4 linked regions of the Homo sapiens genome follow. The gene in region 4 interacts genetically with the main gene of each other region. Each region holds a gene or a part of one and is shown on either strand. Other genes may lie near its edges.

Evidence for each region. A genetic interaction does not mean that the proteins touch.
Region 1: changes in SNRPG (region 4) and GATB together harm fitness more than expected from each alone (negative genetic interaction), as found in Homo sapiens cells (one large-scale study listed by BioGRID).
Region 2: changes in SNRPG (region 4) and METAP2 together harm fitness more than expected from each alone (negative genetic interaction), as found in Homo sapiens cells (one large-scale study listed by BioGRID).
Region 3: changes in SNRPG (region 4) and PSMB6 together harm fitness less than expected from each alone (positive genetic interaction), as found in Homo sapiens cells (one large-scale study listed by BioGRID).

What each region holds. Positions count from the first base shown.
Region 1 is NC_000004.12:151,750,080-151,754,872, reverse strand, and holds part of GATB (glutamyl-tRNA(Gln) amidotransferase subunit B, mitochondrial isoform 1 precursor), read left to right. Parts: intron 1-4,793. UniProt on the Homo sapiens protein: Allows the formation of correctly charged Gln-tRNA(Gln) through the transamidation of misacylated Glu-tRNA(Gln) in the mitochondria. The reaction takes place in the presence of glutamine and ATP through an activated gamma-phospho-Glu-tRNA(Gln).
Region 2 is NC_000012.12:95,504,787-95,509,579, forward strand, and holds part of METAP2 (methionine aminopeptidase 2), read left to right. Parts: intron 1-4,793. UniProt on the Homo sapiens protein: Cotranslationally removes the N-terminal methionine from nascent proteins. The N-terminal methionine is often cleaved when the second residue in the primary sequence is small and uncharged (Met-Ala-, Cys, Gly, Pro, Ser, Thr, or Val).
Region 3 is NC_000017.11:4,794,475-4,799,891, forward strand, and holds PSMB6 (proteasome subunit beta type-6), read left to right. Parts: upstream 1-1,689; 5' UTR 1,690-1,720; coding exon 1,721-1,822; intron 1,823-2,253; coding exon 2,254-2,321; intron 2,322-2,963; coding exon 2,964-3,095; intron 3,096-3,207; coding exon 3,208-3,337; intron 3,338-3,534; coding exon 3,535-3,679; intron 3,680-3,785; coding exon of another isoform or gene 3,786-3,805; coding exon 3,806-3,948; 3' UTR 3,949-4,021; downstream 4,022-5,417. UniProt on the Homo sapiens protein: Component of the 20S core proteasome complex involved in the proteolytic degradation of most intracellular proteins. This complex plays numerous essential roles within the cell by associating with different regulatory particles.
Region 4 is NC_000002.12:70,282,736-70,287,999, reverse strand, and holds part of SNRPG (small nuclear ribonucleoprotein G), read left to right. Parts: intron 1-628; coding exon of another isoform or gene 629-739; exon of another isoform or gene 740-802; intron 803-5,264. UniProt on the Homo sapiens protein: Plays a role in pre-mRNA splicing as a core component of the spliceosomal U1, U2, U4 and U5 small nuclear ribonucleoproteins (snRNPs), the building blocks of the spliceosome.

The DNA.
Region 1 (4,793 bases), on a different chromosome or scaffold from region 4:
AAAACTAACCTGGGTATCTCATCACCTCAGAGATGTATAGAGAATTAAGTAAATAATGAAAACCAGTAAAAACTAGTATATGGATAAAATTATTTCTGAATTAGAAATCATTACTTTTATTGCGAAAAAGAAGGCTTATGAGCTTTTTTTTTTCCATCTGTAGTTATTTGGAGTGTTTCTTTGGTTCAACATGGTATTGGCTCTTGATTTAGTAAAAAATTAGGATTGTCACTTAAAACAATTGTTATAATGTATAGTCTTTCTGTAGACATTTCATTCTTCTTCTCTGTCGGTTGTGTCTTCATTCACTCAGCTGGCATATATTGGATGCCCACGTTATGCTAGCCCTTGTGTAGCTCTAGTGACACAGTTTTGAACTTGGTAGACGATAGATATGGGTGTTGCCCACATGGAGCATGAACAAGCAAGCAGGCAGTTGCACTACCTTTTAATAAACATGTTAGTCGTGGAAATACAAGGTGCTTGAGGAGCACATAGGAAGAGTATTCAACACAGATATAAGGAATTGATGAAATTGGCCAAGTAGAAAGTGAATAGGATGTACAAAGACCAGAAGAAAAACAACGTGGCTTGCTCTAGAAACTGAAACGTTTTCCATGTGTTGTAGCATAGAATTTGAATATGGGCATTGCAAGAGGTGAGGCTAGAGCAGAAAGCATAGCCTGTACCATATAAGCCCTGATAAAGGGTGTGGATCCCATTTGCAAAGAGGTAAGAAGACGTAAGGAGAGTGCAGGGCCAGAAACTCCAAGGAAGTGAGTGTTTTGAGAAGGAGGGAGTACAAGAACATTGGATGCTACTGAGAGGTCAAGTAAAGTGAGGACTAGGAAGTGCCCATTGGATTTATTAAGAAGGGTATCCTTTGCAAGAACAGTTTGAGTGGGGTGATGGAAACAGAAGGTAGGTGGCAGTGGATTGAGAAATGTCATGGCATGGAGGAAGAAGTGAGTGTGGGCAACTGTTTCAAAAAGTTTTACTATGAAGGACAACAGAATGCAGCAAGTGAAAGGAGACATAGAATCAAGAGAAAACATTTATTGGTCATGTCTTTCTTAATATTGGAGAGACTTGGGAATGTTTAAATGCTGATGAGTTATGTAGTCTATGATAGTGTACACTTAAAATGTGTTTAAGAGGATAGATCTCATGTTAAGTGTTCTTACTGCAATAAAACAAAATTTTTTAAAAATGCTGATGAGAAGGAGCCAATGAAGAAGGGGTAAAGACAGGAGAGGCTTTTGATTAATATGATCAACTGAACACATGCATTTTAATCCATCCTCTCTGTAACCCAGAGAAACCCCACTGAAATCATAGTGAAAGAATGCAAATGTGATAAGCCTACAAAAGAATGGGAGAGGAGACAAGAGTGTGTGAGAGAGAGATGGTAGGTGGAGGAGGGCCTCACTTTGCAGAGGATGCACTGTGACCTAAGTGCCTGCAGGAAGGGACACTAGCGAGAACTGAGATGATGTGTCCTACACAACCTTAAAAACGCTCAGGATGTGGGGGCGTCAAGTATTGTGGAAGGCTGGCTGAGGTGAAAACAAAGGGGTTGAGTCAGAGTCTGAGTACAGTGCAGTGAGATCTGAGCTTCTCTACCTGACCCTCTGCAGCTGCCCTACCCCCATAGGAATGTATAGTCTTTGGAGAAATTCAGCTCATGACACACTTTCCCTGAGGCCACCAGTCAGAGCAAAAGGCGGTATCAGACAGCATCTGTAGTGAACTCCAGGACCTACCCAGTTCTTTTCCCTGCCCCAGTGCGGGAACTTAGGTGGCCTGGTATGTCCATCTTTCCTCTTCCCCTCCTCCCCCAAGCAAGAATCTGCAGGAGCTTCTTTGAAGATTGTGTGACCCTAGTGGGAAGAACATGAGATATTGACATGGTGGGATGTCTCTCAATTTAAAAAAATCTGTCTGGCCACCTGATTGCTTTACAGTGAAGGCCACTGATGAATAAGCCCTGGGCATTTACATAGGACTTTTAATTGGCATTTTAGTATCTTACTTTAAAATATAGATTGAGAGCCAAAAATCACCAGGCACTTGAGGAGATTCTCCAACATGATAGACAAAGCTCAAAATAAAAAAGAAAACTAAAGGAAATAGGAGGCTATAGATAATGCACAGGGTAAAAGAATACTTAAAAAATTAATAGCTTTTATAAATGTCCTCAGAGAGATAAGGGAAGGTAGCTGCCTCTTTGAAACAAGAACACAATACTGCTTTTAAAAAATGAACAAACAGGATAAAAACGAGCTCTTAGAAATTAAAATTATGGTGCCTCTCCTTCCCCTGGGAAAGTTAGAAAATAATGTCAAGAAAATCTTCCAGAGATCAAAACCAATGTGCAGTGCATTGGACAATAGAAGAAAAAAATAAGCAAATTAGAGAATCAGTCCAGGAAGTTCAGCATCTGATTAATAAGAGACTCGTGAAAAAATAGAAAACAGAGTCAAGGAAACTCTCAAACAAAACACGTGGATTAATTTCCCAGAATTGAAGGACATATATCTCTAAATGGAAAGGGCCTGCCAACTACCCAGCCTGAGGAATAAAAATAGTCTAACATGAAGGCATGTCAAGAAACTTAATAACACTGAGAATAAAGTTAAGGTCCTAAAGCTTACAGAGAAGAAAAAAATAATCAGGTCCACATACAAAGGATTGGGAGTCAGACATCAGACTTTTCAACAGCAGCACTTATACCTGTAAGAGAATGGAACCATGCCTTAAACATTCTTAGGGGAAAAAAAATTATAATTCTAACCTAGAATTCGGTACCCAACAGTGTCAATCAGATGTGACAGTAGAAGAATGGTATTTTCAGACAGACTCTCAAAAAGTTTGCCTTTCATTACCCCAGGAACCTGCTGGAATAATAGAGAAGTTTCAGGTTGCCAGCTCTACCATGAGACCGTTGGAAGAGGAGGAAGGTGGCTCCAGAATAAAGAATTCTAGGAAAAAATGAGAGTAGGGAATTAACAGGTATCTGATTTGTGTGGAAAAAAGATTTCCATATAATCTAGCCTTTAGAGGAATGAGCAATAGGTACATAAAAAATGAAGCACATGAAAACAATGAAGGGCTTAGCAAGTCTAGGAAAAACAAAATGTTCAAGAAAGGAAATGTAATCATAGTGTTTTATTAGCTTAGGAGAGAAACATGTAAATAATAATAGAAGCACCAGCTACTGATTTAATAAAAACTGTGATATAACTTGGATATTGGGAAAAGAACTAAATTCTTACCTACCATAATTGGAAGTCATGTTCTAAATTGGTAAAGCAAGAAAAAAGTAACCTAAGTATAGGCTGTAGGAACATTTTTGGCCACTGATTGGAGGCCTCTTTCTCCTTTTCAGGCCTTAAGCCAGTAGATGGGTTTTATTTTGTTGTGTTTTTCTTTGGCGGTGAGGTGGGATGTGGGATTGTATTTGTGTTTTGTTTTGTTTTTTAATTAGGTGATGGGTAAATGATTTGGAGCTCCCAAGAAACAGACTAGTAGTCAAAAGCATTTTTAAAAACAAGATTTATTTTTATTTTATATACAAGATAACGTTAGGTAATAATCAAACATTACCTGTACTGGTTTCTCAGCCTTCTGCTGGTGAAGTGCTTTTCATTTTGTTTTGTTTTTTGTTCTCAAAGTCCAAATAATGAGTCCCCTACCACACCCCTGTTCTCACAACTCTTACCCTTACCCTGATTTTAGGAGAAATAGACTCATCCACATTCTAGATCCATCCATACTCAAGCTCATGCATGTAATGGCTCTGTCTGCTTCCCTGGGGGAGACATGACCTACCATCCTTTTTTCTAACTGACTTTATGGACTTTTATGTTACCCAACTTCTCATGGCAGGGCTTTTAGGGAGTGGGTATATTTTATTTTTGGATAGAAATATAATTTAGCAGCTAGGCACAGTGGCTCGTGCCTGTAATCCCAGCACTTTGGAAGGCTGAGGTGGTTGGATGGCTTGAGCCCAGGAGTTGGAGACCAGCCTGGGCAACATGGTGAAACCCTGTCTCTACAAAAAAAAAAAATACAAAAATAAGTCGGGCATGGTGGTGTATGCCTGTAGTCCGCTGCTTGTGGGGTTGAGGTGGGAGGATCACTTGAGCTTGGGAGGTGTACCACGGCACTCCAGTCTGAGTGACAGAGTGAGACCCTGTTTCAAAAAAGAAAAGAAAAGAAAAAAATATAATGTAGCAGCAAGCTTGGGTAATTCTTTGATAAAGTAAGATATAAAAATATTGCAAAATGTCTCATATTGTTATTCTCTTATCTTGTAACTTATCTCAGTTATCTCTCAGAAATGGAATGGGCCAAGTCTTAGGAGTCCACGTTCTTAAAACAAGTACACTGTATCATTGTGACAGTTTATCAAATCTATCTTTTTTCCAGATTAAGGAAGGATTGTCACATAGCAAATGGCCAGGAGCCTTGGCCAACAGGTGATGGATTTTCCAAAGGTCCCCTGGCACAGCATATTATTTAAAAATAGGAAGATAAATACCAAACGAGACAGCTCAAAGATCTGAAGGTGGTTGCTGCCAGGAACAGGACGGGACCTAGGAAGGGGTGGGGCGGGGAACTGCTGCTTTTCATGATCAGTTATTTAAAAATACATGTCTGTGATATTTTGTTTAAAAAACTTAAGTTAGGGGCTGGGCGTGGTGGCTCACGCCTATAATCCCAGCACTTTGGGAGACCGAGGTGGGCGGATCACGAGGTCAGGAGATTGAGACCATCCTGGCTAACACGGT
Region 2 (4,793 bases), on a different chromosome or scaffold from region 4:
AGCCACTGCTCCTAGCCTGTGGTTTTTTGGAATCACATTCAGAATTTGGAGGCCAGTTCCTTCTGTATCACTTTAATTCCCAAGTTCCTTTGCCTTCTAGTCTTTACCAGTGACTACCTCAAGTATATACTCCCAGAGTCCCCTGTGCTTTCTGGTGCTGTACGTTAACCTCTGTCAGTCCAGTCCTCCTCTGGCTCCCAGGTCTGTCTGACCATCCCCCAGCCACCATCCTCCTCCCTCATCTGTGCTCATTATTCTCTGTGATCCTGCTGTAATAACTTCCTTATAGACTATTTTCTATATTTCCTTTAACAGAATTCTGTCTCTCTTTGTAGACTGTGAGTGGAGACTCTCATGTTGTTTTCTTGCCTCTTAGTAAATTCACACCATTCAGCATTCTTTGCATTTCCTGTTGCCCATTATGTGTTTCTACCAAGAGCAGAAGTGATTCTTCCTCTGGAACCTGACCGTGCCTTCTATATAGACAGTTACCACCAACGTAACAGTCCTCTTTCATGTCTAAATACTGAAATTTATTACCAGACTTAAACTTTTTTTTGAGACAGTCTCTCGCTCTGTTGCTCAGGCTGGGATGCAATGATGCAATCTCGGCTCACTGCAACCTTTGCCTCCTGGGTTCAAGCGATTCTGCCTCAGCCTCCTCATTAGCTGGGATTACAGGTGCCCACCACCACGCCCGGCCAAATTTTTTTTTTTGAGATGGAGTCTTGCTCTGTCACCCAGGCTGGAGTGCAGTGGCACGATCTCGGCTCACTGCAACCTTTGCCTCCCAGGTTCGAGCCATTCAAGCCATTCTCCTACCTCAGCCTCCTGAGTAGCTGAGATTACAGACGTGTGCCACCATAGTTGGCTGCTTTTTGTATTTTTAGTAGAGGCGGGGTTTTGTCATGTTGGCCAGGCTGGTCTCGAACTCCAGACCTCAGGTGATCCGCCCACCTCGGCCTCCCGAAGTGCTGGGATTACAGGCATGAGCCACCGTGCCCAACTCTTTTTTTAGACAGAGTCTGCCAGACGTGGTGGCTCACGCCTGTAATCCCAAAACTTTGGGAGGCCAAAGTGGGTGGGTCACCTGAGGTCAGGAGTTTGAGACCAGCCTGGCCAACATGGTAAAACCCCGTCTCTACTAAATACAAAAAAAAAATAGCCAGGCGTGATGGCACACACCTGTAATCTCAGCTACTCGGGAGGCTGAGGCAGGAGAATCACTTGAAGCCAGGAGGCAGAGGTTGCAGTGAGTCAAGATTGCACCATTGCACTCCAGCCTGGGCGACAGAGTGAGACTTCGTCTGGGGAAAAAAATAAAAAAGAGTCTTCCTCTGTTGTCCAGGCTGGAGTGCAGTGGCACGGTTGCAGCCCAACCCCCTTGCTCAAGCACTCGGTGGAGTGCGCTCAGCTTCCCGAGTAGCTGGGACTACAGATGTACAGTATCATACCTGGCTAATTTTTGTATTTTTTAAAAAATATTTATTTTTATTTCTAATATATATGCTTTTTTTTTTTTTTTTTTGAGACGCAATCTCACTCTGTCGCCCAGGCTAGAGTGCAGTGGCGCAATCTTGGTTCACGGCAACCTCCGCTTCCCGGGTTCAAGCGATTCTTCTGCCTCAGCCTCTCAAGTAGCTGGGATTACAGGCATGCGCCACTACACCCAGCTAATTTATTTTTGTATTTTTAGTAGAGACGGGGTTTCACTATATTTGCCAGGATGGTCTCAATCTCTTGACCTCATGATCCGCCCGCCTCGGCTTCCCACAGTGCTGGGATTACAGGCATGAGTCACCGTGCCCAGCCTATATATGTTTTTTGATATCAAGATATTCTTCCATTTCATTGTTCTTCAAGGTTTCATTTCCCTTCCTCCTGCCTAGACCCTGTGTTGGCAGCTTTAATTCTTCTCTCATCTATATCTTTAACTTCTTTGTTATTTGATTTTCAGATATTCTCTTTAAGATCTCTAATCCTGTGAACACAAGTGCAAAGCAGAATACTTATTTATTTATTTATTTATTTATTTATTTATTGAGACAGAGTCTTACTCGTTCTGTCACCCAGGCTGGAGAGCAGTGGTGCAGTCTTGGATCACTATAAGCTCAGCCTCCCGAGTAGTTGGGATTACGGGTGTGTGTCATCATGCTGGCTAATTTTTGGACTTTTTTTTTTAGTGGAGATGGGGCTTCATCATGTTGGCCAGATCAGGCGATCTGCCCACCTTGGCCTCCTAAAGTGCTGGGATTACAGGCGTGAGCCACTGTACCCGGCCCAGAATACTCTTGATGTTACTCACACTTAGGTAGGAGGTGTGGGATAATGAAGAAAACACACTTTGGGGTTCAGGCAGTTTTTACTTGGAGTCTTAGATAAATCTGTAACCTGAATACCCAAGTTTCTTGACTGTAGTAGGGTTAATGGTATCTAGTTTATTTTGAGAAATGTAAATTGTGTGATAGTGCCTGGAATTTATTAAGTATTCAACAAATATTTGTCATTCTGTCCCCTTCTCACCCCAATTCTGGGATTAGTGCCACAAATACAGTGCTTATTCAGGCTCTTCCAAATCGCTCTTCGCATCCAGGAAATTACTTACCTGATGAGAAAAATAGCCAAACAAGCCTAACACTCTTTAACATTTTTTCCACGTTGCATAAAGAACATGGCAAAATACCAGGATTGGCAAATGCCGGGATTTGCCCATCTTCTCCCTATTCTTATGTTTTTATCTCTGTTCTTCAAGGAAGAAATATTCTGTCTTCTATACAGTATTTTCTTTAAAATTTTTTTAAATTGTTAGCTCAAACACTGCGTTAAGGATCTTCTTTTCAGTGTTAATCCTCCACCTCCTTTGAGATACCACCTTATTACGCCTTTTCTCTACATACTCAGCCTTTCCCCTAGTGGCTCCTCTCAGTGTGAAAGCACATGTGGAGGAGAATAAAAATCATAGCATTAGATAACCTTCCATGATTCTCATGATTTTTTTTTTTTTTTTGAGAGAGACTTTTGCTCTTGTTGCCCAGGCTGGAGTACAATGGTGCGCGATCTCGGCTCATCACAACCTCCGCCTCCCAGGTTCAAGCAGTTCTCCTGCCTCAGCCTCCCGAGTAGCTGGGATTACATGCGCCACCACGCCCAGCAATTTTTTTTTTTTTTTTTTTTTTAGTAGATGTGGTGTTTCTCCATGTTGGTCAGGCGGTCTTGAACTCCCAACCTTAGGTGATCTGCCTGCCTCGGCCTCCCAAAGTCTGGGATTACAGGCGTGAGGCACCGCACCCAGCCGATTCACATATTCTACTTTTGGCTTTTACTTACTGTTATGTGAAATTTTTACAATTTATTTTTACATTAAGACATGATTTAAATTTACTATGTTCCTTAGTAAGGGTAAACATACTTTTCTTTGTATCCTAGCCAAAGCCATAAGGAAAGCAAAAGATTTTTAAAGGCTAGAATTTAGAAGATCTCATTTCCAGTGTGCTTTTCTTTGGAAAATGTTTTGTCCAGTTCTTTAAATAGCTTAGAACCAGTTTTAGGAGTTGCTGCTTCTATTAACACTTTATGAGCTCCCCAGAAGCAAGATTCTTAACCCAAAGAAAGCTGAGATTAAGAGCATAAATGCCAAGTTAATTTGAGGAATTTATGGGACTAGAACATGGGCCTTCTGATTTCTAGGTTCACTGCTACAAATGAACAGAATCTATTTCCAAATTCGTGAGTCTTATGTCAACTTGGAGTACACACTGTAGCAGTCTGCTTGGGGGACTACCTCTAGAGTTAGTTATTTCTCTTTTTTGAGAATTTGCTGAAATTTTTGTAAATTCCAACACTAGCCAACATATACCAATGTCTTCTCTTTTTCCTTTCATTTTCTCCTAATTCTACAACTTGTTTGGTATGTGGTCTGCCTTTCAAGGTATGGTAGGTGACAGTTTGACTTAATGTTTTAGTCACTGCATAATAATTCCAGCCTGCAACATCGGGATTTTTAATATCTACCCTTTTACCTCTTCCATTAAGCTAGTGCAGCATTTTTGGTTTCATTATTTCAGTACCCCTCTTTTGATCCCTGTTATTTTATTGATCAGTGTTCTTAGTTTAAGGCAACAATCCATTTTTATAGTTTAAGCAGAGAGGATGTGGAAAAATCATGATAATAGGGAGATGAAGAAATGGATTCCGGGTTGAACTTTCCAGAACAAATCAAAACACATAGCACAAACGGGCCATCAAAGGAGTATCTTAATCTCCTTTGATCAGGAAGCAATAGAATTAAAAAGTGATTGTTAACAAATTACTGGTCCCAGAATTAGCCTGTGCTGTTACAACCTGCATAAGTAAAAAATGAATTCCCCTGTACCCTCATTTTTCTGTGTAACTAACATATTAGGTTGGTATGGCTAAGAAACTTTCTTTAAAAAAATTGATTGGCTTGTAAGGGTCAGTCTGCAAAGTTTGAATTTTAAAATAAGCTTGTTACTTGTCAACCTAAATAACAAACAGAGGCTCTCTAAAAGAAAATGATGTTTGGGAATAGAGCATTGCAGTGGGAATGCCATAGTAAACTTGTGCATATTCAGGGAGGTAAGGAAGACAGAGGTTTTTGAAGACGAAAATGAGGATGACATAATTGTTTTGAAATAATTATCCTTGGCTCCAAAGATTAATAACAAAAGTGACGCCAGTCGGAGGTTGGGCAGGCAGTTGTTGGGCAGATGTCCTTGCAGAAGTATTTTTTTGTGTAAGGTTGCAGTGGGCTTTGTGCAAGGTTATGGTTTTCA
Region 3 (5,417 bases), on a different chromosome or scaffold from region 4:
GGCCAACATGGCGAAACCCCATCTCTTTAATAAAAATACAAAAATTAGCCGGGCATGGTGGCGCATGCCTGTAATCCCAGCTACTTGGGAGGCTGGGGCAAGAGAATTGCTGGAACCCGGGAGGCGGAAGCTGCAGTGAGCCGAGATCACACCAGTATAAAAAGACAAATAGAGGCCGGGCGCGGTGGCTCACGCCTGTAATCCCAGCACTTTGGGAGGCCGAGGCGGGTGGATCATGAGGTCAGGAGATCGAGACCATCCTGGCTAACAAGGTGAAACCCCGTCTCTACTAAAAATACAAAAAAAATTAGCCGGGCGCGGTGGCGGGCGCCTGTAGTCCCAGCTACTCGGGAGGCTGAGGCAGGAGAATGGCGTGAACCCGGGAAGCGGAGCTTGCAGTGAGCCGAGATTGCGCCACTGCAGTCCGCAGTCCCGCCTGGGCGACAGAGCGAGACTCCGTCTCAAAAAAAAAAAAAAAAAAAAAAAAAGACAAATAGAGCTGGGTTCAGTGGCACACACCTGTAGTCCCAGCTACTTGAGAAGCTGAGGCGGGAGGATCACTGGAGCCCAGGAGTTCGAGGCTGATATAGTGCACCATGATCCCATCTGCACTCCAGCCTGGGAAACACCGCAAGACAAACCCACCCCACACACACACCCCACCCTCGTCTCAAAAAAAAAAAATTAAACCCCAAAAATATATTAAACAAAAGACATATCCCAATTTTAGAATGTGCAAAGAACTTGAAAAAACATTGCATCAAAAAAGACATACAAATGGCCAATTATCTCATGGAAATATGCTCAGCATCACTAATCATTAGAAAAATACCAATGAAAACCACAGGGTACCACTTCACACCCACTGGAATGGCTATAACTAAAAAAATGCACAATAACAAGTGTTGGTGAGGATGTGGAGAAATTGGAACCCTCACACATGGCTTGTAGGGATGTAAAATGGTGCAGTTTCTGTGGAAAACAGTTTGTCGGTTGCTCAAAATGTTAAACATACAGTTATCATAGAACCCATAAATTCCTCTGCCAGCATATACTCCTAAGTATATAACTAAAAGAAATGAAAACATGGTGTGGTCACTTTAGCCCAAAGACTCTCAGGTTTATTTTGTGGGCCCTTTGGACTGTAACTCCATAAGATCGGTACGGCGCAAGCCACTAGGACTGTTTTTTGTTTTGTTTTGTTTTTGCTTTTGTTTTGAGACAGTCTTGCTCTGTCGCTCAGGCTGGAGTGCAGTGGCGTGATCTCGGCTCACTGTAACCTCCGCCTCCCAGGCTCAAGCGATTCTCCTGCCTCAGCCTCCCCAGTAGCCGGGATTACAGGCGCGCCCCACCACGCCCGGCTAATTTTTGTATTTTTTAGTAGAGAAGGAGTTTCACCATGTTGGCCAGGCTGGTCTTGAACTCCTAACCTCATGATCCGCCCGCCTCAGCCTCCCAAAGTGCCGAACGGTTTTTGGGTTTTTTTTGGTTTTTTGGGGGGGGGGTTTTGCTGACTTTCTTGTTTTGTTTGTTGCTTGCCACGCTGCCATCAAGTGCTCACTGTCGCAAAAGAACCGTCCCCATGCAGTACTGTACTTTTCTTTTCCCTTCTGCCGTCAACCTCGGAGTAGCTTCGCTCCCAGAAGGCCTCAAAGCGCGACCAAAGAGCGTGACAGAGCGCTTTACGACAGTTGCTTTGAGGCAGTACCGGAGGAGAAAGATGGCGGCTACCTTACTAGCTGCTCGGGGAGCCGGGCCAGCACCGGCTTGGGGGCCGGAGGCGTTCACTCCAGACTGGGAAAGCCGAGAAGTTTCCACTGGGGTGAGGAAGGAATCGGGGTTCATAGGACGTGCACAAGGCCTGACGCGATGGGAAGATAAAGCCTGAGTGGGGTTGAGAGATCTGGCAGGGGTGGAGAGGAGGTGGAATGTGTTGTGCTCCAGGAATGGGGAGAGGTACCCCGAAGATGGTGGAGTGGTGCGGTAGCTTCGTAGTGGGAGGTGGAGGGTGGGCTGAAGTTTGAAATTCTGAAATCCTGCGAGGCTAGTGAGGATCTTGGGCTTAAGTACGGGATGAGTCTTTTGAGATTTGAGGGTTGGCATTCTGGTATTCTGCGGGGTGCTGAGGCCCCTATAAGATTTGAAAATGGTTCAGCGACGGACAGATTTTGTATTTTTGGAACTAGGTAGAGAGATCATTGAGGTTTGTGTCTGCTGGAGAATGTAGACTTACTCCTTTTTCCCTTTTCCCAGACCACTATCATGGCCGTGCAGTTTGACGGGGGCGTGGTTCTGGGGGCGGACTCCAGAACAACCACTGGGTGAGCTCAGGACAGATTTGTGAAAGGTCTTCCCATCTTCCTTTTCCTTTCCTGCCTGCCAGCCCACCCTGCCTGCCTCCACAGACCACTGTGGGAAGAGAGGTTTCTTCTCTCTCTGGAGATAAAGATTTGTCCCAACTTTTGTTACTTTCAGTTCCCCTCACTCGTTAGTGGAATCCTTACAAAAGTCTGTTCTCCAGCCCGCTTCAGTTTGGATGAGAATAAGCAATACTGGAGGCCAGGCACGGTGGCTCACGCCTGTAATCCCAGTACTTTGGGAGGCCGAGGCGGGTGGATCACCTGAGGTCAGGAGTTCGAGACCAGCCTGGCCAACATGGCGAAACCCCGTCTCTACTAAAAAATACAAAAATTAGCCGTGCGTGGCGGTGCGTGCCTGCAGTCCCAGCTACTTGGGAGGCTAGGGCTAGAGAATCGCTTGGACCCAGGAGGTGGATGTTGCAGTGAGCAGAGATCGCGTCACTGTACTCCAGCCTGGGCAACAGAGCGAGACTCCATCTCAAAGAAAAAGGAAAAAAAGGCAATACTGGACATCCTATCCCTGAGCCCTAAGAGAGTGGGTAGTGATGGGATGGAGGTGGAAGACAGGTGGGCTCCTTTCCTCACTATTCTGCCATCCTGCAGGTCCTACATCGCCAATCGAGTGACTGACAAGCTGACACCTATTCACGACCGCATTTTCTGCTGTCGCTCAGGCTCAGCTGCTGATACCCAGGCAGTAGCTGATGCTGTCACCTACCAGCTCGGTTTCCACAGGTGCTTGTGGGCAGGGGAGGGGCAAGTATCTGAAGGGAGTTGGAAGCTGAGGAGCTAAATAGCCTGACTTCTAGGTCTTGAAACTTTCTCTGTGACTTCCCTGACCCTCTAGCATTGAACTGAATGAGCCTCCACTGGTCCACACAGCAGCCAGCCTCTTTAAGGAGATGTGTTACCGATACCGGGAAGACCTGATGGCGGGAATCATCATCGCAGGCTGGGACCCTCAAGAAGGAGGGCAGGTCAGATCCCCACCCGACCAGAGCACACTTGAGCCAGGACTTTTATCCTCTCCCCAGCCATTTTCTTTTTCTTTCCAGTCTCTACCTCACTTATTCTTACTATTAACGTGCCTCAGACCAATAGCAGAATGGACAGGTGAATGTACGTGTGTTGGAGGGAGGATACGACTGGTGACTCCTCTCCTTCTATCTGGCAGGTGTACTCAGTGCCTATGGGGGGTATGATGGTAAGGCAGTCCTTTGCCATTGGAGGCTCCGGGAGCTCCTACATCTATGGCTATGTTGATGCTACCTACCGGGAAGGCATGACCAAGGAAGAGTGTCTGCAATTCACTGCCAATGGTGAGAGCTTAGGCTTCTGGGCCTATGAGCTTCAACCCCAACTACCCAAGCCAGGCCAGCATTCCTCATTCCTTGCAGTGATCCCGGCATCTGAATCTGAACCCAGCTTTCTTCTTTTATCCACAGCTCTCGCTTTGGCCATGGAGCGGGATGGCTCCAGTGGAGGAGTGATCCGCCTGGCAGCCATTGCAGAGTCAGGGGTAGAGCGGCAAGTACTTTTGGGAGACCAGATACCCAAATTCGCCGTTGCCACTTTACCACCCGCCTGAATCCTGGGATTCTAGTATGCAATAAGAGATGCCCTGTACTGATGCAAAATTTAATAAAGTTTGTCACAGAGAATCTTTGTACTTTGGGGTTCTTTTTTTTTTGACTTCAAGTCCGAATTTGTCTGGCCCATTCCTATTTGTAAAAACCATTGCACTGAACTCAGAGCAAGTTGGAGAGGAGATGAAAGGAGTTTATGAATGCTTTATTCCCCAGTAAACTTTTACATGGGTGGTTTTCAAACCTCTTCTCCAAATTGCCTTCCCCCAAACTTCCTTTCCCCCACCATATCCAGGTCCTTGAACCACTGGATTGTGGTTGGTGTTGGGGGTACCAGCAACACCCACTCCCTGTTCAAGCCCAAGGTGGAACTCGGAATTCTGACTAAAACTGGAGTCACCTTCCTTCAGCCTGCTTCCTGCCAGTCATCCTGGGTGACTACTGTCCCTAAGGCCACAAAGACCAGCCTCCTCCAGCCCAGCCTCATGGTCCCCTCTCTCCACACTTAACCTCTGTTACCTCACCTTGTGGTCAGCAGTAGCACTGTGACTTCCTTGGCTTTTGGGAGAAAGGTGGGCCTTGTCTGCAAATGGAATTTAAGATGAATGATGAGTGGGAGAACAAAACCACTGGGAGTGGTTTGGCCAGCTCTGGAAGCCACCATTCCCATGGTAGGGGGTGTGATCAACCTCTTGGATGAGAGGCTGAAAATAGACTCTGGCCCTTCCGAAGCTGTCCCCACTCAAGCCAGGGACATAAAGGAGCTCGATAGCTGGGACTACAGGTGTGTGTCACCTCACCTCAGGCTAATTTTATTATTATGTATTTTTTAGAGACAGAGTCTCGCTCTGTCATCCAGGCAGCAGTGTCACTGTCATAGCTCACTGTAACCTCAAACTCCTGGGCTTAAGTGATTCTCCTGCCTCAGCCTACCAGTGTGCTGGGATTACAGGCATGAGCCACTGTGCCCATCCTTTTTTTATTTTATTTAGTTATTTATTTTATTTTTTTTGAGATGGAGTCTCACTCTGTTGCCCGGGCTGGAGTGCAGTAGCCTGGTCTTGGCTCACTGCAACCTCCGCCTCCCGGGTTCTGGCGATTCTCTTGTCTCAGCCTCCCAAGTAGGTGGGATTATAGGCGGGCACCACTGTGCCTGGCTAGTTTTTGTATTTTTAGTAGAGATGGGGTTTTGCCAAGTTGACCAGGCTGGTCTTGAACTCCTGACCTCAGGTGATCCACCCACCTCAGCCTCCAAAAGTTCTGGGATTACAGGCATGAGCCACCACACCCGGCCTTAAATATTTTTTAGAGACAAGGTCTCCCTATGTTGCCCAAGCTGGTCTTGAAGTGGCCTCAAGAGATCCTCTTGCCTCAGCCTCTTGAGTAGCTGGGATTATAGGCGTGAGCCACTGCACCCAGCTCTTTTTAAATAAATTTTTTTTTTTTTTTTTTGAGACAGTGTTTCACTCTT
Region 4 (5,264 bases):
GTTAGTAACCCCCAGAAATGGCAAATAACAGGCAAGATTAGACTTTCCATCTCCTTTTTAGTTGCATACGGCAGTTACTCAGCTGTAGTAATATCCTGGTTACCTGTAGGTAAGATCTCAACTATACAGAACCTAAGGTCCTAGCGCTTGAAATAGCTGTTGGAAATCCTTTTTGAGCTTTATTCTGCAATAGAGGCTCATAGTTGGTCCTTCATTAGAGCAGTAGTTCTGAAACCTTAATGTGTATATGAATCCCCAGGGAATCTTCTTAAAATGAAGATTCTACTTCAGTAGGTATGGGGCAGAACTTAACTAAGGTTTTGCATTTCTACTAATGCCTAATGCAGATCTGCCAGTTCACAGGTAACACTTTCTGATTTTACTTGTATACATAGTTAACCTGGATTTTCTGGTTTACCACACCCAAAATTTTAAGGTAGCCAAGGTAAAAGTTACAAGGGATAATCACAATGACAGTTATTCACATGAGAGAAAAAGCAGGAAAAAATAAGCACATACTGAGCCCTCATAGGATTAAACATTCCTACATTCATTGGGCCGTAGTTTTAGTGATTGCTGAAGAAGAGTTTTGATACCCAGACTTTGAGTCCCTCTTTGTCTAACACAGGACAACATACCTAATAAAGCGGTAAGCCCAAAGTTCTTGAAAAAGGTGAACCAAAAAGGACAACTTACTTTTAGCAAATTATTAAGCATAAAGACCTCCAAGGAGTGGTAAGAGTTGCTAATTATTAGCCTTGATTTATTAACCTTGATTTTTAAGTTTGAGCAGTAAAGTTGAAGATAGACCTATTTTGACATCTCTGCCTGTTTAATTTTTTTACATACCATTCTTTCCAAGGTTTGTGTTATTACTTATTTCAGATACTTTTTCATTACTGTATTTTGAAAAGCAAATCAATAGTTATGACTGAAAAAACAGTTTAGAGTCTCCAGATACCACACTGTACCCCCAAGTTTCATGTAAATTGACTTGTCTTTCAGGTATATTCCCTTGTGAGCTTCTGTTGAATAAGGCTGCCAGCATGATTAGTAGCCAAGTCCTTTTAAAAACATTTTCTAGATACCCCAAGATTTTCCTCTCAGCCCTTATTTTTACAAATAAATTTTCATTCTAATAGAAGGTAGATTAGGTTTTTAGTTCCTTGCAAAAAATTTGCTGAAAAGGATTCAGGAAGAACTTGGCACCTAATTGTCAATTCTGCTTTGAGAAGATTAGAGAATTATGTAACACACTGCTCATTGGAATTTTATCAGAGAAGGAATAGAGCATCCCTCTGGCAATTTTCCCCCTAAACTTTATGGACTTTATTTTCTTTGCACAGAAATTGGTTGAAAGCACTGCCATCCCAAGTCATTTAAGTAATGATTACCTACTTAGTGTGTTGGGCAGCCTCCTGTTCCATCTCTGAGGTTTATGTGACACACACGCCCCCCAACCCCCAGCCAAAGAAAAAAAAAAGTTTTTATCAGCAGACAGTAATTCTTGCTGCTGAGTCTTCACTTTGAAAAAGAAATAATAACACATCAGACTTCTTTAATAAAAGACATTTTAAAAGGCAAGAACAGAGATGAACTTTTTGACTTTTCTAAAGTTGGAAGAAGGGAAACAAATAGGTTAAGGTTTTGTTATTTTGTTAGAAGTTGTTTAACAAAGGACAGTTGGCTTCATTATTACCTTGTCCAAGTCAGTGATCCATTGAGGCCATTGAAATTACTTAATACTGTTTTATTGCAGTTATGTGTGTGTTGGCTGGGCACAGTAGCTCACATCTATAATCCCAGCACTTCGAGAGGCTGAAGCAGGAGGATCACTTGAGCCCAGGAGTTTGAGATCAGCCTGGGCAACATAGTGAGACCTCATCTCTACAAAAAAATTAGAAAATTAGCCGGGCATGGTGGTGTGCACCTGTAGTCCCAGCTACTCAGGAGGCTGAGGCAGGAAGTCAAAGCTGCAGTGAGCTGAGATCACACTACTGCACTCCAATCTTTGTGACAAAGCGAGATCCTGTCTCAAAAAGGATGTGTTTGTTTTCAGGAGTGAGTTTGTTTTTAACCTGTCAGTTGGATCGTTACCTAATGATAAATCTCAACTATCTTCTGAGACATCCCCAGAGTTGTCAGTGGCATCGCCTCTATCTTACTTTTTATTATGTTACATAGTTCAGGCACTCTTGCTAGGGTTGTCCTTCTGTAGCATCATTGAAGCACAAAAAAGGGAGCAGTATGTAATTCTGGACCTGATGGTTCAAGTTTGATTTGGAGAATTAGGCCTCAAACACAGTGGCAAAAGAGGAAGAGCACTACAATAGGCCTCCTTTATCCTCAGAGTAGGTACCAGAAACCACAGATAGTAGTGAACCCTATGCACAAATTTCTGTGTGTGTGTGTGTGCACGCGCGTGTGTATGACAGAGTCTCACTGTGTCACCGAGGCTGGAGTGCAATGGTGTGGTCTCGGGTCACTGCAACCTCCGCCTCCTGGGTTCAAGCAGTTCTCCTGCCTCAGCTTCCCGAGTAGCTGGGACTACAGGCGCACACCACCACGCCAAGCTAATTTTTGTATTTTTAGTAGAGACAGGGTTTCACTATGTTGGCCAGGCTGGTCTCAAACTCCTGACCGCATGAGCCACCTGCCTTAGCCTCCCAAAGTGCTGGGATTACAGGCGTGAGCCACCGCGCCTGGCCAGCACGAACTTCTTTTTACTTCTTCACAATCTCACAGATAGAAGATTCGTCCTTACCATAAATCTTGGCAGTCTCAACATATGATTCTTTTTCTTATTAAGTCAAGAACTTGTACCTTTTCACTTAAAGGAAGCACTTTACAGCTTCTCTTTGGCATATCCATATTGCCAGCATCACTGCTCTTATACTTTCAGGCTAGTATTAAGTTAAAAAAAGGGTTACTTGAACACAAGTAACCCTTTGATACCACAACAGTCAATCATAAAACTGAGATAACTGATTAATGGGCAGCATGGAGATGCTAGACAAAGGATAATCCACATCCAGGGACAGTATGAGGTATCATCACACTGCTAAGAACAGCATGCAGTGTAAAACTTACGGATGTCTGTTGCTGGGACTATGCATTTAATGTTTTTGGACCACAGATAAGGTGGGACAAAGTTCACCATTTAGCCTTATTTTCTAAATATTATGTGACAAGACAAATATGTAAATTTAGCAGGGAGCTAGGCAGGAAGGCTAGCTTTTCTTGCTTTGGTCAATGAGATGTGATGTTCAATATCTGTTGCCAAAAAAAAAATTGAGAATTTAAAATTCTGATAACTGGCCAGGTACAGTGGCTCACACCTGTAATCCCAGCACTTTGGGAGGCCAAGGCAGGAGGATCACTTGAGACTAGGAGTTTGAGATAAGCCTGGGCAACATGGTGAGACCCTGTCTCTACAGAAAATTTTAAAATTAGCCCAGCTTGGTGGCTCATGCCTCTGGTCCCAGCTACTTGAGAGGCTGAAGTGGGAGGATCACTTGAGCCCAGGAGGTCAAGGCTGCAGTTAGCTGTGATTGAACCACTGCATTCCAGCTTGGGTGACAGAGCAAGACCCTGTTTCAAAAAAAATAATAATTAAAATGAAAATAAAATTCTGATAACTAGGTAAGCATGTTTCTACTCCTGGCTTATGCTGGGCATGGTGATGTGCGCCTATAGTCCCAGCTACTCAGGAGGCAGAGGCAGGAGAACCACTTGAGCCTAGGAGTTCGAGGATGCAGTGTGCAGTGATTGTGCATGTGAATAGCCACTGCACTGCAGCCTGGTCAGCATAGCTAGTCCCAGTCTCAAAAAAATGGAGGGGAGCTCTGTTAACTTAGAAGAAGAGTGTCAATCTTTAGACTCTTTCAGTTCCCATTGTCATTTTCAGGGCACTGTGTTTACTGGTTTTTGTTGTTGGTTTGAGATAAGGTCTCACTCTGTCACCGAGGCCGGAGTGCAGTAGCATGGAGCTTGGTTCACTGTGGTCTCAACCTCCCTGGGCTCAGTTGATCCTTCCACCTCAGCCTCCCGAGTAGCTGGAACCACAGGTGTGCACCACCACCCTCAGCTAATTTTTGTATTTTTGTAGAGACAGGGTTTTACCATGTTGCCCAGGCTGGTCTCAAACTCCTGGGCTCAAGCTATCTGCCCACCTGGGCCTCTCAAAATGCTGAGATTATAGGCGTGAGCCACCATGCCCAGCCATTCTTTTTTAAATCTGCTCTTTACTACCTTATCATACTCATTGCTGATAATTGGCTGCCAGGTTCCAAGACACTTATCCTACCAATTGTGTTCCCTTCTATTCTGTCAGCTGCAGTAATCACATGTGAGTTCTTTTATTCATATTTACCAGGTTATTGAGCCCTCTGTGTGCCTGCTACTATTTTAGGCACTGGGGTTTTGCACCTAAGTCCCTGCCCTCATAAAATTTACATTTGTATGGAGAACACAATAAATCATAGCGTATGTGTAAATAAAACAAGCATGATACTGTGAGAAAAGAATAAGTTACAACTACTTTTACTCTAGCTGCCTATAAGCATAGCTCCACTTTGAATCTTTTTGGAATGCCTCCATTTCTAATAAACACCTCAAATTATTACATTACCTTTCTCTCCCCTACATTACCTATTCTTTCCCTCCCGTACCCCTCCATTCACCTATCCAATTCTACTTGACTGATGGGTGATCTATCGATTATGATGATCTCCAGTCTATTAGGGACTTACTGTTTTTAGTCCCCTAGCCTTCCAGTTTCGCTTATTTTTCTACCCCTCTTGAATTCATTTACCAGCTGATTCATCTATACTCTGATAAGTTTGTCTGTTGGTTTGTTTTGGTTTTGGTTTGTTGTTTTTTTTTTTTTTTTTTTTTTTTTTTTGACAAAAGACAGTTTCGCTCGTTGCCCAGGCTGGAGTGCAGTGGCGCTATCTTGGCTTACCGCAACCTCCGCCTCCCGGGTTCAAGTGATTTCTCCTGCCTCAGCCTCCTGAGTAGCTGGGATTACAGGCATGTGCCACCACACCCGGCTAATTTTTTATTTTTAGTAGAGATGGGGGTTTCTCCATGTTGGCCAGGATGGTCTCGAACTCCCAACCTCAGGTGATCCACCCGCCTTGGCCTCCCAAAGTGCTGGGATTATAGGCGTGAGCCACCACACCCCCGATAAATATTCTTATCTTCATTTATGGCTTATCTACTAGGTCAAGCACTGTTCTCCTAGGGCCTTTTTTTTATAACTT